Regions from separate parts of the Homo sapiens genome. Here region 1 is linked to region 2. Evidence: fine-mapped expression QTL. Tissue or cell type: whole blood. Region 2 holds a variant in brackets; the other region holds the start of a gene. All regions are shown on one strand. Distances are between the middles of the regions.

What was found. PIP is the estimated chance that this variant, and not a neighbour inherited with it, causes the effect.
Region 1: it holds the start of GRIK4, and the variant in region 2 is fine-mapped to the expression of GRIK4 in whole blood (TOPMed, PIP above 0.99).

The regions. Positions count from the first base shown.
Region 1 is chr11:120,507,210-120,515,349 of GRCh38, reverse strand. GRIK4 (glutamate ionotropic receptor kainate type subunit 4) reads right to left here and starts at 3,602. Exons shown (of 21, transcript NM_014619.5): 1 at 3,463-3,602. RefSeq lists silencers at 3,532-3,731, 3,912-3,991.
Region 2 is chr11:120,853,404-120,861,403 of GRCh38, reverse strand. The region is part of intron 8 of GRIK4 (glutamate ionotropic receptor kainate type subunit 4); the gene reads right to left. Among named protein-coding and RNA genes, the nearest start is that of TBCEL, 170 kb to the left of the region's middle. The variant T/C (reference allele first, on the strand shown) is at 3,809.

The sequences.
Region 1 (8,140 bases), 350 kb after region 2:
GTGAGGGCAGTGAGGCTCAGAGAGGTGAGGCAACTTGTCCGAGGTCATGCAGGGAGTGATGTGAGGACAGGAACCCAGGTCTGCCTGATACTTGGTAGCTGGAACTGGTTCCTCTTCCAGCAGCACCTTGAAGGCTGGGCAATATATGGATGGGAGGAAAAGAGGAGGAAATGCAAAGGGCCAGGGTGAGGACACACAGTGCCAGGGCTGGGTGGCCAGGGGAGGGGGGACAAGATCATGCCAGACACCACGTTGTGACATAAAGTTGGGGTCAGCGTGCAGAGGGCCTTCACCTGCAAGGCATCTTGGAAGGCACTGCCACTGACGGCTGCTGAGACAGGGTCCCCTGTGAGAAGCGTTACCCTCTGTAAGAAGACAGGCACAGCGGCAGGATGGCTGGAAACTGAGGCTGGAGGCCCAACAAGGAAGCTTTCAGGACCGTAACTCAGGGTGAACAGCCAAAGGCCCAAGTAGGGACCACGGCAGTGGGAGAGCAAAGGTCGGAGTGGACACTCGAAGTGCCCAGAAGAACTGAGTGGGCTGAGGCCTAAGGCACCAGAGAGAGGGAAGGAGGGTGCCCCAGGCACCCCGGCTGCATGCCTGGGGGAACCCAGCCGTTCTTTCCACAAGGAGGAGGCAAGAGGCAGTGCCCACTTGGGGTAGGGGGTGGTTGGTTGGGTCTAGGGAGTGGCGGGACACCCAGGCAGCCAGTCTAAGGCTGAGGAGACTACAGAGCAAAGACTCCACCAGGCCTGGGGTGGGGGTGAAAACGGTGAGCCATCACTGGAGAGGGCGAAGGGGATGAACTGAGGAACAGGCAGGACCAAGGGTGGGCTTTCTGAGAACCAAACAGCTGAGACCTTAAAAAGCAACAGCAACGAGCCCAACAGCACTGGACTGAGCGTCCAGGGGCCTGGGACCCAGCTGTGGAGCCTTGGATGAGGCATCCAGCCTCTCTGAGCCTCAGTTTCTGTTGGGTCATGAATGCCTCCTTATAAGGCTGTCTGTAAGGAGCGATCAGATGCTTGCAGGGCTGTAGTAGAGATCAAATGAAGTAATTGTTCTGAGAGGCATCTGGAATGCTGCAGAACCCCATACACACATAAGGGATTAGTACTATGCAGAAGCACCAAGAGATGCATCCTTCCCACACACGCTTGGCGCTGCCCACCCTCGCCAGCCACACAAAGGCCAGCTTCCGCCTCGCTGCTTCTCTTGCCTTCTGAGCAGTCTCTCCCCCAACCCAGGGCCGGTCCCCCTGTCCTCCCTTCCATCTCTGGATGGCTGAGAACCACCTCAGAAGCAGCTGAGCTCCTCTCTCCTGGATGCCCTGACTCCCTGCAGCTGGGACTTTCTCCTAGAGTCTCTGCCTCTCTCCCGGTACTAAAGTTCCCTCTCCATCCTAAGGGAAAACCAAAGTGGAAATCAGACCACGAAGCCGACCCAGGCTCTCGGAAGAATTTTCATTGCTGGGGAAGACAGCAGCCACCGATCAAGATGCCCAGGTAGGGGGATGGGAAAAACACAGAAAACCAAGATCCCCTCTCAACCTCCCCTCCCGAGCATCCACCTCTTCCCCACCCGGAGGGACCAGTGCTGCCTCTGGGTTTCAGGTGGCAGGTCCAGAGGAGGACAGAGGGGTGGAGCTGGTGAGGCAGGCGGGAGGCTGGTGGGCAAGCCCGGGCCACAAGGAATGAACAAAATATGGAAAATTAAACAAACCCAGACACTGTAATGTGTGCATATTAGATTAACTCTCCGAAGGGTCGTGACCTTGAGGAACACATCTGGCCAGTGAGAAAAATAATAAACCTGATTAATGATGAAGCCTGAGCTGCAGCTTCAGCAAATAAAGCCAGCATGATGACGCCCAGTGGAATTCCAGGGGCTGCCATCCCTGGTGGGACCGGAACACAGTGGACCTCGACAAGCCCCTCGCCCCTGACCACGCGAGCACAGACAGTCAGGGAGTCAGGCAGGACCGGATTTGTCTCTCAGATGCCCACTACCAACCCAGGCGGCCTCTCTCCCCGGAGATACCACGCCCGCAGTTTCCCGGTGCTCCTAGAAGTGTCACTACCAACCAGGTGACCCATAGGGAGTGAAAGTGAAGGTAGTTCTTTGTTCCTGGCAGGGCTCAGTCCTCCTGACCAGCCCTCAGACCTCTTGGCCTGGTCTTGACAGCTGCCCACTGCCTGGCAAAAGGGCCCAGCTGTGCTCAGAGCTCCCCTCCTCTTCCCAGACAACCCAGACCCTTGGGAGACATGCCCAGGAGAGCCACTGGAGGGAGGCAGGGAGGTGGCACCGCGTGGCATCACCAGACAACAGCACCAAGAGGAAGATGGCAGCATCAAGTACAGATGCCAAGAGCCACGCAGCCCAAGGTCCAGCCCGGGAGTGGCTCGGCCCGCATTGCCCCACCACTGCCAGGCAGACGGGCCAGAGGCGCCCGGGGCCCAGCCCCCTCGGCCGCCTCCTCCACCACCCCAAGGCCCTCAGCCAACTCTCCCCAGGCTCCAACTCCTCCCCTCACTTTGCTCAGCTCAAGGGAGCCAGGGAAAGAGACACAGGTGCTCTCAGTGCCTTGAACCCCCTGTCCCAGCTGTCGCCTGCACGCCCTCCACCCCAGCCAGGTCGGAGCGCACAGCTCTGCCAGTCCTCACTGAAGAGAATCTAAATCAGCTCCCCTCCCCCTCCGCCCCAGCCCCCTCCCCCATCACGCGCCCATTGCAGGTCTCTAGAGTTTCTCCCTCACTTCCCACTCGGATGAACTAGGGTGGGATGGGTGGGAGCCCCATTCTCCCCGGGAAAGAGGATCATTTCTGATAGGACGCTGGTTCCCCCAAGCAAGGCGGTGTGCAGGGTGGGGGGGTGTGGTGGTGGCCCGAGTCCAGTGCAGGGGCAGGGGGCAGTCGAGGCAGATGGCAGTGAGGAAAGGGGGAGGGGGCTTGGTGGGATGCCAGGCTGAGCCGGGATGGGGGGCTGCAGCCGGGGAACAGAGGCGCTGGGAGAAGCGGAGGGTGACGAGGTGTAGGGGAGACGCGCCAGGCTGGGAAGGGGCTGTCATCCCTGCAGGGGACAGAGGCAGGGCTGGGAGTTGCACGGGGAGGGGGAGGACCAGAGCGGGAGGACCGCGAGCCCGGGGAAGGGATGCGGAGGGAGGGAGACGGACCGGGGTGAAGACTGGAGGAACTACGGGAGCAGAGCGGTGGGGGGTTCGGCGGCGAATCTGGAGACGCAGGGACCGAAGTGCCAGGGACCGGGCTGGCGGGAGGCGGGAGCGGGGAGGAGGGCGCGGGGGCGGGGGCCGGGGCAGGGGTGCGGGGCCGCGGCCCCCGAGGGCAGGAGCGGCGGAGACGTCAGAAGTCGGGGTGCGGGAAGGGCCAGCGCGGAGGGGACTCGGGGGCGCGGGGGCAGCGCAGGGAGCGGGCCGGGGGCGCCGCGGGGGGCCGCTGCCCTTACCTGGTCGGCTCCGCACTCCGGGGGCTGAGCCGGGGGCCGGGCGCTGCCGGGCCGGCCGCGGGGCTGCTGTTGGCCGTTTTTCCTCTTCCGCAGCAGCCGTGGCGGCTCCAGCCCGATCCGCCCGCAGCTGAAGGCAGTCTGTGTCCGGCTGCGAGCGAGCCCGGCGCGGGGAGCGCGGGAGGAGCGCAGCGAGGCGCGGGGCGCCGCCCGGCGGGCAGCTGGGGAACTGCTGCGGCCCCGCGCACGGCCGGCCGGGGGGGCGCCCCTTCGGGGCCGGGCCGGAGCCCCGCGGGCAGCTGCACGCGCCCCCCAGCGCCCCTCGGAGCGTCGCCCGGGAGCCCAGGCGCGGGGGCGGCGGGGGCGGCGGGAACGGCGGGGGCTGCTGCGGGCAGGGCGGGCGCGGGTCCGCGCGGCCGGGGGCAAACTTGCGGCTGCCCGGGGGCCCGGGGCCGAGCGAGAGGCGCCCGGCTGGGGAGCGGCGCCCGGCAGAGGCTAGGGGCGCGCGGCCAAGCGGGCTCTGCGAGGTACGGACCTCAGGTGGGGAACCCGGCGCAGCCCGCACACTCCACCGCCCTGCGCAAAGGGGCAGCCCGCCCCGGCCCCGAGGAGTTATTAGCCCGGCGGCTTCAGCGAGCAAGGGGCGCCCCCTGGTGGCATTCGGGAAACAGCGCGGGGGACGAGCGTGCCCCGTTAGAAGAGACTGCGGCCTCAGTGGTGCGGAAGATGGAGAGGTGGAGGTTTCATGGGACGAGACAAGAGCACCTTGTTCAGGAGACTGAAGAGCAACAGCTTGCATGGAGTCATTCCAGAGCACTGTTGTATACATACCAACATCTTGGGAGGATCTCATGTTACGCATGAAGATCCTGAGGCTAGGAGAGGTGAAGGGACCAGGCCAAGAACACACGGGGAGCAAGTGGCAGGACCCAGGAGGCAACCCCGCTTTCTGACGCGCGGTTCATTTCAGTACACCGTGTGGTTCATCCTAATACAACAGAGTTGCCCTTAGGAGGAGGCTGGGTGAAGAGGGAGTCCTGGGGGAATAGGAGGGAGGGCAAGGGACACGTGACCCCCTCAAACCTATTAGCTCCCTCTTATCCAACCCGCAGAGTCTCTGTCTTGGGCAGACCACCAAACTGATCACACCGGCCCTCTCACCTTCAATGGCCTGTATCCCCACACCCAACCACCAGCACTCCCACAATCTCATTAAGCTCTCTGTGAAGGGTTTGTTCACAGACGTCCTTGGTCAGGTCTCACGCATGAGGCATACTATCGGGACTATAGACTGTTCTGGACGTTGCATTCCCCGGGGAGGGCTGGCTGGCTAGCCTGGGCGCGTACTGGGCCTCCTGCTTCAGGAGTCGTGCCTATCCCTCCCCCAGCTCCACACACTGGCTGGATGAATGCCATATGCGAACAGGGCTCCATTCCTCCAGCCAGACATTATTTAGCACCTACTGTTTGCCAAGACTATACCGCTTACACAAGTGTGATTCCCAATAATCAACTTTGCAAGGTAGGTGTTGAGGTGACACTAGTCCCATTTTACAGAGGATGTTAAACCTGTTAAGGTTTAAGAGCACCTGTAAGCCAGTGACACAAAACTAATTTCTAATTCCAACTCTATTCCCCCACTCTGGAACCCCCTCTCTTGTGCAAAATGGACGGAACAGCAGCATAAGCCTAGCAGAAAGTGTACGGGGCTGGGAGGAGGGAGAGGCATCCCTGTGATCCCAGCAAGCGATTTCACTTCCCTGGACTTCAGTTCCCATAACTCTAAAAGTGAGGGAAGCAGACTAGATGATCTCTCAAGCCGCGCAAACTCTGAAATGCCAAGCATGGATCCCTGGCCCCTTTCACGGGAAGAATGCAAGATCAGCGAGACCAGAGAGGCTTATTAAGTGTTTGGAAAGAAAAATACTATATAAGTGAAATGCTTCATCATATTCTTTTGCCTGGTGATCTCATCCTATTAACCAGGGAAGCGGGGAGGAGCTTTTGGCAGGTCAGAGAGATTGCTGATGGCTCTGGAGATAGTCTTGGCTGTGGCCTCCTGAGGGCCCTGGTTTCTCCCCTTCTTGCAAGAATGGTTCTGACTTTCTTTTCCTTTCTTAAGGCCTCTGCCCCTAGAAGCAGGGAGTCCCTACCAGTCACAGGGTGGACAACAATGTCAGCGAAGTCTGCCGGTACAGAAGTCTGCTGTTAGCCTCAGCCTGGTTGCCCCCACCCACTCTCCTGTCTCCCCTTGCTGCAAGATGTTGAGTTCTTTGGGATACTTACTACTTGCTCTCCACCTTTTTTACTACTGAAAAAATTCAATTCCAGGCAAGCTGACTTCTCAAGCTCAGCTCCAGGGGTGGGAAGGTCAGTCCAGATCTTTTTTGGAAGCCACAGGGGGAGAATGTCAGAGGGCCACGAGGCTGGCCCCGCTGATCTACTCTGAGGCTGCTGCCTTGAATGAAAAAACAGAAGGGTTGGGAAATGGGGCTCCCACCTCTAGAACCTCTCATCTGAAACATCCCTCACAGCCAGCTGCTATGCTGTGCAGGACGGATAGGATTCATTGTGCTTGGGCGCCATGGTGGTCGGAGCGCACAGGAAGGAGTTTGTTCTCTTGGATTTATCTTTAATTTCTTCCATCTATCTGCCTCTGGTATATCCACTAAGAAGAATATTTGATCTTAAATGTACCTGCCATGTCTTTTCCGAAGGTCCCTTTGAAGGTTCATCACACATTCATAATGATCCCTCTGCATAAATGGGGCCAGCTGAGGCACACGGTGAGCAGGTGACTTGTTGTCACCTTGCTGAGTGGCACATATCATATCATGTCACCATGTCTTAGAAACTATTGCAGCGGCCCTCTAGCTCATCTCCCTGCCTTTAAATTGGCTCCCTCCAATATGTCTACAAATGGCTGCCAGAGTGATGTCTCTAAAACAAGCTTCACCACTTTACACCCTTGCTGAAAACCCCTTCATGACCTCATATTGAGTCCAAAACTTTTTTTTTTTTAAGACGGAGTCACTCCTCTGTCACCAGGCTGGAGTGGAGTACAGTGGCGGAATCTCGGCTCACTGCAACCTCTGCCTCCCGGGTTCAAGCGATTCTCCTGCCTCAGCCTCCTGAGTATCTGGGACTACAGGCACCCGCCACCACGCCCGGCTAACCTTTGTATTTTTAGTAGAGATGGGGTTTCACCATGTTGGCCAGGCTGGTCTCCAACTCTTGACCTCGTGATCTGCCCGCCTCGGCCTCCCAAAGTGCTGGGATTACAGGCGTGCACCACCGCACCCAGCCTCGAGTCCAAAACTTCTTAGCACAGCATACAAGTTCCCTGCTTACTTCCCCACCTCACCCATCATCCATTTCTGTCCATCTCACCTTCAGTCAGTACCAAGCAGCACTGAGTTCTCTGCTCATCCCATTTCATACCTCTGTGCCTTTAACACACTGAATTCTGCCCAGAGTCCCCACCCTACCTCCCACATACACACTGATACACAAGTTCCTATTAACCGCTCAGAATTCTGTTTGGGAACCTCTCCTACTAGAAGTTTATCATACCTGGCTATCTAGTCCCTTCCCAACAGAAGTAATTACTCCCTTCTCGGGATCTCTCTTGTGCTTGTTAGAGTTTATGGTCACTTACTTGTTTCACGTCTGCTCTCACTAATAGACTGTGAGCTTGTTCTCCTGGATTTATATTTTAGCTTCTCCCTTCTTTGTATTTGCCTCAGGTATATCCGCAAATCAGATATTTGATCTTAAATTTACCTACCATTTCTTTTCCAAAGGTCCCTTGAAGGTTCATCTCAAGTTCATAATTAGACTATAGGCTTTTTAAAAAATCTCTGGCCGGGCACAGTGGCTCACACCTGTAATCTCAGCACTTTGGGAGGCCGAGGCGGGTGGATCACCTGAGGTCAGAGTTTGAGACCAGCCTGGCCAACATGGAGAAACCCTGTCTCTACTAAAAATACAAACTTATCCGGGCGTGGTGGCATGGGACCTGTAGTCCCAGCTACTCAGGAGGCCGAGGCAGGAGAATCACTTGAACTGGGGAGGCAGAGGTTGCTGAGATCGTGCCATTGCACTCCAGCCTGGGCAACAAGAATGAAACTCCAGCTCAAAAAAAAAAAAAAAAAAATCTATTAACCACACAGTGCTTGGCATAGGAGATTCTTAGTAAATGTGTTGAATGGATAAACCAATAGAGAGAAGGGGTTAATGAGGTCTACAGTTCTGGCAAATCGGATTTGCTCCTGTCATTTGTCCAGATGAGTCAGATGAAATCCTAACTGGCAAATATGAAACTGTGCCCTTGGTAAGCTTAAAGTCTTTACAACCTAAGTTGAAGCTGGGGTTCACATTTGAGGAACTTAGGTTGAAGGAAGCAAGGGCCTGATTATATATCATATTGCAAGACTATTAAAATTCATCAGTCCTATCGGAGTACTTAAACTCCAGATTAAAAGAAAATAAATTCTGTGTTCTTCTTGTCACTTGTTTGGAGGATAAATGGTTCATTCTTACAGCAGATGTCTCACAGAACCAGTTTTGAAGCAGAAGTGAGTTAGAAGGAGAAATGTTCTCGATGTTTACTCATGCTTTAAAGGATGCAGTAAGCAGTGGTTTTGCCCAGTGATATTATGGGCAAGTATTGGCAAAGAGC
Region 2 (8,000 bases):
GGGTGCAGTGGCTCACGCTCATAATCCCAGCACTTTGGGAGGCCGAGAAGGATGGATCACTTGAGGTCAGGAGTTCAAGACCAGACTGACCAACATGGTGAAACCCCATCTCTACTAAAAATACAAAACTAGCCGGATGTGGTGGTGCATTCCTGTAATCCCAGCTACTTGGGAGGGTGAGGCAGGAGAATCGCTTGAACCCAGGAGGCGGAGGTTGCAGTGAGCCGAGATTGTGCCATTGCACTCCAGCCTGGGCAAGAAGAGCAAAGCTCTGTCTCAAAAAAAAAAAAAAAAAAAAAAAAAAAAAAAAGAGGATGATTTCTGAACCCTACCTAACACTACCTGAATCCGAATCTGGGGAGCTGAGGCCCAGGAGCTTGCATTTCCAGCAGGACCCTAAGTCTTATACACCTGAAGTGTGGGTTAGCACACTGGATACAAGGGGGCCTGGGAGAGGGATGGTGAGAAACGAAGCTGGGGCAGTCAGCAGAGACCAGACCATAAGAGTCAGGATGCCAGGCTTGGGAATGTGCCCTTTGTCCTATGTGTGATGGGACCCAGGGGAACTGTCAGTGGAGGAATGCCAAAACCAAGTTTGCTTTCTAAGAACCTCAACCTGAAGGTTTGCGGGTAGGGTGGTGCCTTCATTTACCACTAATTTTTTCATTCACTTGATACACATTTAAGCATTTATCATGTGCCAGACATGGTTCTAGGCATGGAGGATATGGATGAGAGAGACACACTTGTTGCCCTCAGGAAGCTTGCAGTTAGTGGAAGAGACAGATAGTAAGGAAACAAATTCATCGTCATTTCATATAGCTATGGGGATGGGACTTGGGGTGAGGGACTGCTACTTTAGATGACGCAGTCAGGGAAATCCCATCTAAAGGCAGTGACATTTAGAAGCTCAAAGGAGTTCTCCCTGCAACCCATGGTCCTCATGCAATAACGCTGGTGGGGCCACGTGTTAGCCTGCAGGTGTGAGTGCACCGAGGCCAGTTAGTGTTATAGAGAGGGGCAGTGTCCTCCTCTGAGCTCTGAGCCCTGGCCCCCAAGGTCTCCCTGGGCCCTGTACAGCGAAACCAGTCAAGAGGGTGTAGATTATTCAGCTCACTGATCCCCGCTCCCGGAAAGATGCCTTCAAATGTGCGTCAGGCCACCTTTTCACACAAAAATCACATTCATTTCATGTTCATTCCAAGTGCCTTGCACACAGATCCACACCCTGGGGGTACACAGGACTTCCAGACCCTAGGACTAGCCCGTCAGCCACTCAGCCTGACATGACAGATGGCAAGTGCCTTAGGCTTTCCTTCTGGCCAGGAAGAAAGATTGCTTTCCTCCAGGCAGTCTCCTCTTCTGAAGACTTAGCTGCTGTAGGCCCCTGGCGCCACCCTTGCATCCTTGCCACACAGCTCCAGACACTGCCAAGGCCTCAGGCTACAGGCCTCAGCTCACCTACCCAGAGCCCAGCTTCATTAGCTTACACGTGCAAACTGGAGGTACCAAGCTTCCTTTGAAGCCACCAATGCCTGACAGAGTGGATTTGGATAAGGTTTAAGTGTATTTTGGATCCTGCCACATTCCCATTAGGGGAAAAAGGACATGCCAGAGAATGTATTGATTCCTACACTGATATTATCTCCTATCTCTCTAACAGGGCAGCTGCCCATGTGCTGTGGGCTATCGGTAGGCACAAGGGGGCAGATGGCTAATGGAAGAAGATGCATTTGGCAAGGGTGCAGGGACTGGGGCAGAGCCAGACTGTTGTGGGCAAACCAAGGGGCCTGGCTGGGCATGGTTGGCAGGGGCTGGAAAATGTCCTCTTCCCTGGCTTCCTTATCATTGTGGGCAGACACATCAGCCCAACTCCATCCTCTCCCCACACACAGAGCCCGATGGATGAAGGCTCATTTTAAGGAAGCCCTGAGGCTCTGGATGTCCACAGATTCACAGTGGCAGCTGGGGTGATATAGTGGATTCAGGCTTTGGTGTTCAAATCCAGGTTCCTTACCATACTGGCTGTTTGACTTTCGGCAAGGTCTGTAACCTTCTGGGCTTCAGATCCTTGTTTTTTAAAAAGAAACAATATTAGCAACCTTATAGGTTATTTCAAGAAACAAGTAAGATGCATGTAAAGCTTAGCCTCCTATTTGGCAAATACGACAGCTACTGAAAGACCACCGTGAAATCTGGGGTAGCTTCTGGCTTTCTGCCTCTTCAGTTCCACAAGTTAGAAAGGTATTCCCTTCAAATGCATGTTCTGGGCGGAGTAAGAATGAATGAGTTAATTACAGACACTTAGAGACAGTCTACCCAGAAGTCAGCCAGTCTGTCTTCCTGCCTTTTTATTCCTACCTTCTTGTCCCACAATTCTATGCAACTTTCAAAGGCCTCTTAAGATAAAAAGATTCCAGAAGCTTCCTTGATAATTCATTCTATTTATAATGACTCATGGGATAGCCTGTGGAAGGACAAGGAAGGGGGAGGGGCACATTCTTTTACTGCCATTTCCCACGACACTCTAAGGTTCTAGTATCTAAGAATCCTTACAGTTAGGAAATTCTCCTTTTTATCTAAACTTAAGACTTTCCTGCTGCTATTGAAGACTATTGTCTAAAAGAATATGGGAAATAACTGACCACCGTTAGTTTACAAACAATGAACATCTTATGTGCCAGTATTTATCAAAGTGTGTTCCTCAGGGCATTAGGTTTCCAGGTGACACCAACAGAAATTTCATGAAGACAAGGTTCCATGCTCAGATAAGGCTGGAAAACAATGCATATTATATCTGCCTTTTCAAGATTCGTAATAATCACTAGCATATTAAAGGCTGAAAAGAGTCCAGCAGTGAAGCAGCTGGTTTAATTTTGTTTAACCCTGAACTTCCCAAACACACTGACCATGGAACAAAGCAGGACTATGGGTTTTTTTTTCTCCTCCAAAATCCATGAGTGCCTGGCAGTGGCGTGCTTCAGAACGCAATCTGGGAAATGCTACTCTACATCTATTCAGAGAAACATTTCTTAGAAATCCAAAGTCAAGTGGTGGAGACATTTTGCGGAGAGAGATATTTCATAAAACGAACACATTTCAGGAATGGAAGGGATTAAAGTTCACCCAGTTTCCGCTGCCCACCCATCTTGAGCCCTACCTAAGAATGCACACCTGGCTCACTTAGGCTCCCATTATGCCTCCCCAACCCCGCCCCAGCCACACTGCCTGGCTGGTTGTAACCTTCATACAATGACAGAAAGGAACAGTCCCTCGGGTGGAACAGGTTCTCATGGGGACCTTGATCCTCTTCTTATAAATATCCCAGGAAGGGATATCCTGAGGGTCCCTGCTCCCAACAGGAATCGACTCCCATTGTCCCAAACCAGGGAATGAGGGTGAAGAACAGAGCAAATGGGACCTGGTAAAGCCAAGTGGTGGGGCAGAGACCAGGACCAGGTCTTCCACTACTCCAAGTGTGGGTGGCTTTGTGATGGACCCCATGTTGCATTGTTTGTTCACACATGTGGTCTCTCTCTACAGGGGGCTGTGTGTTTCCAGGAAGCAAAGATATGTCTGCCTCATTTTTGAAGTTCACACTGCATCTAGAGAGTGCTTGGTACCTAAAAGCTGTTTGGTCAACGCTGTTTTGAGGACAGTTGATTGAAGACATCTTAATGCCTTGGGGTCTCACTGTGGCCAACTCTAACACCAAGCACACCCTGTCACACCTCCAGAAGGTGTAAAAACATGAGTAGAAGCTGTGCTAACCACTGACTGTCCTCTGTGAATTGCATTATTGTATTTT[T/C]TTTTTAAATCCTGACAGCTTGCTTTATCATCACTGGGCTTTCACATGAAAAACATTTTTAAAAGTGTGTGTGTGTGTGTGTGTGTGTGTGTGCATGTGTGCATACATGTGTGCAAATCTTTGTGTATACAATGGTATGTAAGGGTCCAAATAGCTATAGTTGAAGGTCAGGTCAGAGCCACAAGTGGATACGGGCAGATGTTACCCTGAGATGAAGGAATGCTTCACGGATAATGGCTTGAGAGCTACGTGGAAGGGCGCCCCTCACTTTCTGCAGCAGACGTGCCATGTCCAATGTCCTGGTTTACAAACAGGCATCCATTCACTGCAAGCTGCAGGAAGCTTTATGGGTCTACAGCCTGTTCATCGCCTGGGCCAGGGAGCAAGGACAGGCTCTGAGTGGGGGCTGAGTTGGGCATGGCCCCAGACAGGTGGAGGTCCTAGAGCTCAGGTAGTTTTGTTGGAGGATGAGAGGAAGAGAGGGTCTGGGAAACTGTGAGATTACCATGGCTGCAAGGGGCCGACCATGCCTTATACCACACAGGGTCCAGTGCCAAGAAATGTAGAGCTTTAGTGTCTGGTGTCTGGGAACATGGAGGGATAAGGGAAAGGTTGGGCAGACCTTGTGGGCAGCTTCTGCAAGGGAGGTCTAGGGGAAGCAGGGCCCCGGGGACATGTTCAGCTGGGCTAAGCAGGCAAGTCCCATCACTGGGGGTGGGATTTAGTCAATCCTGAGGACAGGACCAGGTTAGTCAACTACAGCTAAAAGCACAAGAACTTTTAATGGCCCAGATTGTTTCTGAGTTTGACCTTAAGTAGAAAAGCAAGAAACCAAAGCACAGGTCCAGGTGGTACCCTTAAATCAAGTTCATCTCCTAACCCAGGTCAAATGGGTAAGCAGGGGAAGTGGCATTCCGTGATGTTTTCTGCCCAACAGCCCCTTCCCCTTTGCCTTCCTAACCAATAAGGGCATTACTATTCTCCCAGGCACCTAAGCTAGAAACTTCAGAGACAGCCTCAACTCCCTTATTTCTTAACTCCACACCCAGTCAACTGCCAATTCTGTCAAATCTATCTCTTAAATGTCTCTCGAAGTTGTCCCTTCCTTTCCAACCCCTCCAGGTTAGGTCCTCGTCATTTCTCCTCTGCAATAGCTGCTATTTAATGGAGATCGTGCCTCTGATCTTAGGATACCTAGCCACTATGCTGTTCAATTCCCAGGTGCCATTTATACTGATGACCATGTGAATGGTGCCCCTTGGTGCCACATTGTGCAATGTGGCAATCTCATCAGGAAACAGTAGCATGTATTAGAAAGAGCACAAGTTTTGAAATAAGACAGTCCTGGTTTCAAACCCTCATTTGGCCACATACTGGCTGGCTGATTTCAGGCGGATCTCTGAACTTTCGATGTGTTCACCTGTAAAGTGCGGGTAAGAGCATCTACCTTGCACAGGTAATCCATGAGAAGTGCCTGGCACACAGGTACTCATGGCCTGGGAGTCCTCTTCTGTCCAAGTGCAATCCATCCTCCGTGCTGCCGGTGTCACCAAAGTGGGTGCACTGCCCCAATCTCCTTCCTTTTCCTGGTCCCCCTGAACTGCTGGGCCCTGCCAAAAGGAAAGATCTGGCCTGGAGGCTTCGCCTTCCTCTTTCTCTTCCTCTTTGTTTGGCAAGAGGTGACTCTTAGCTACTTGTCAAATGGGAAAAGTTTTGCTAAATAAGTCACCATAGGCCGGGCGCGGTGGCTCACGCCTATAATCCCAGCATTTTGCGAGGCCAAGGCCGGGGCATTACCTGGAGTCAGGAGTCCGGGACCAGCCTGGCCAATATGGTGAAACCCCATCTCTACTAAAAATACAAAAATTAGCTGGGCGTGGTTGTGTGGCATCTGCCTGTAGTCCCAGCTACTTGGGAGTCTGAGGCAGGATAATCGCTTGAACCCAGGAGGCAGAGTCGCAGTGAGCCAAGATGGTGCCACTGCACTCCAGCCTGGGCAACAGAGACTCTGTCTCGAAAAAAAAAAAAAAAGTCACCATAAGATGCTAATTGCTTGGTCTGGCTATTTGTGTTGAGAGAGAAGCCTTTAGTTGAAGTTCCAGATCTTCCAACCATGAATAATCACAAGAAAGCAATAATTCTAATAATAACTACTACAATTTACTGACCACCAACTGTGCGCCAGGCAAAACTGAGCACTTCACTGAGAACATGAGAGAGCTGAGGTTTGCCTCACATCGCATCTGTTCAGCATGAAGAACCCAGAAAAGGAGTCACAGCAAGTACCAGGGTGCAGCAGGTGGGAAGGAATTAGAAGTCAATGCAGTATAACTGCAGGCTTGTGTGGCTAAGATGGCTCAGAGAAACAGGCAGTCGAATGCAGCTTGGTGAACTTGGCCAACTTCTGCTGAGAGCTGTCCAGCAGCCTCAGCCGCCCCTAGTAAAATCTCTCCACGGTCATCATTATTTGAGCCTCAAATGCTTCCCCGCTGGCCTGTGAACTCCTGGAAGGTAGAATAGACTGTCTCACTCACTGCTGTGTCCCTGGCACCTAGAAAAATCAGTGAAATCAAAAGTTGCCTTTTGGGCTTAATTAAATGGTTAGGAGAATAACTGTCCTGGAGAGAGTGGGTATGGGTTTGGAGTCACCGCATTTTAAATCATACACTGTCTTTGGGTATTTTGACCTAGATGTTCCTCTCTGAAAGCCCACATTCCAAAAACCAATCTTTAAAAAAAAATCTTTTAATTTCTTTATTTTTCTCTTTTTTAATCAGAAAAGTTTCCTCATTTTAAAATGGGGGAAATAAGACTTCACTGTGCCATTGTGAGACTCAAAAAAGATAATACATAGGAGAGCTCTGTGCAGACTGGAAGTATGATACAGACTCCTTATTAGTATTATTAGAAGTAATAATAGAATAGCTCAAGGAATGCATGTTTCATGCACTTTCAGGGATCATTAGCAGGTAGTGAGGAAGGCAGTGTGCGGAGGCCTTCCTGAAGCCCACCAGATCACGCCACAAAGGTGGCTGGCTGTCTCCGGCGTCTGCATAAAGCCCTCAGCCCCAGGTAGTCCAAGAACCTTAACAGCTCCCTTCCCAGCAGGGCCACAGGCAACCTATAAAAGGTGTCACTCCAACACCTCTGTGACCTCTGAAATCTCTCCAAGTGTTAACGCTTGCACCCATTTGGGTTATAACTGGCCCTATTTGCAGCCTCTTCACTCCAGAACTGGCTCTGCTTCCTAACAGTGGTGTTTAAAATCCTTAACCCCCTTAACAGTGGGGTTTCAAGCAGTCCCTCATTTCTTGCCTGCTTTCACCCAAGCCTCAGCCTCTGATCCTCTCTGCTCCATGCTCAGCCCTGGACCCTAACTGCCTGGGAGAGGAGGCTGGCAGCCTCATGTCACCCACATCAAAGTGATTTATGAAATATCAATTTATTACTGAGTATAATAACATCAACTGCTTCCACGGATGTGGCTGAATGAAGCTTACAGGGCACTTTCATGCACTGCTTTTGGGGCTCCCGACCACAATTGGAAGTGAACAGAACAGGTTTTATTCATTTTCACATGTGGTAGAAGAGCAAACTGAGGTGCCCAGGAGTTAAATGTCTTGCCCCTAAGACAGACATGGAATTAAGATCCAGGTCCTTGGCAAATAAGACCAGTGATTATTCTATCTTCCCTACTGTGTGCTCAGCACTGGGCTAGGCCACTAGGAGGTGGTGTCAAAGCATACTCCATCACTGTGATTGTTAATGATTGACAACTTCAAATGTTCTCACCCCAGGAGTCCTGAAACACTAAACGATTCTAATTTCTTAAAATATTATTATGAAGCTGAAAAGGAGGAAGATATCCTTAAGACCGTATCGCTCTTTAACTTGAACTCCTTATCTTGCCACTTGGATCTGCTTCCCTCCCTTGGTTCCCTGTTTGTGAATGTCACATGATCCACCTGTCAATCAAGCTAGAATTTAGAATGCATCCTCCCCTTCCATGCTCTCACTGTCCACATCTCATTCATTCATTCATGTAAGCAGGTATGCACTCATTTATTGTCATTTGAGGACATTATAATTCCTTTACATCTCTTGAATCTGATCCCTGCCCTCCACCCCATCATCTCTAACTCAAATCAGATCCTCACCAGCTTGGTCCTAGACTACGGACTCATTGGTTTCT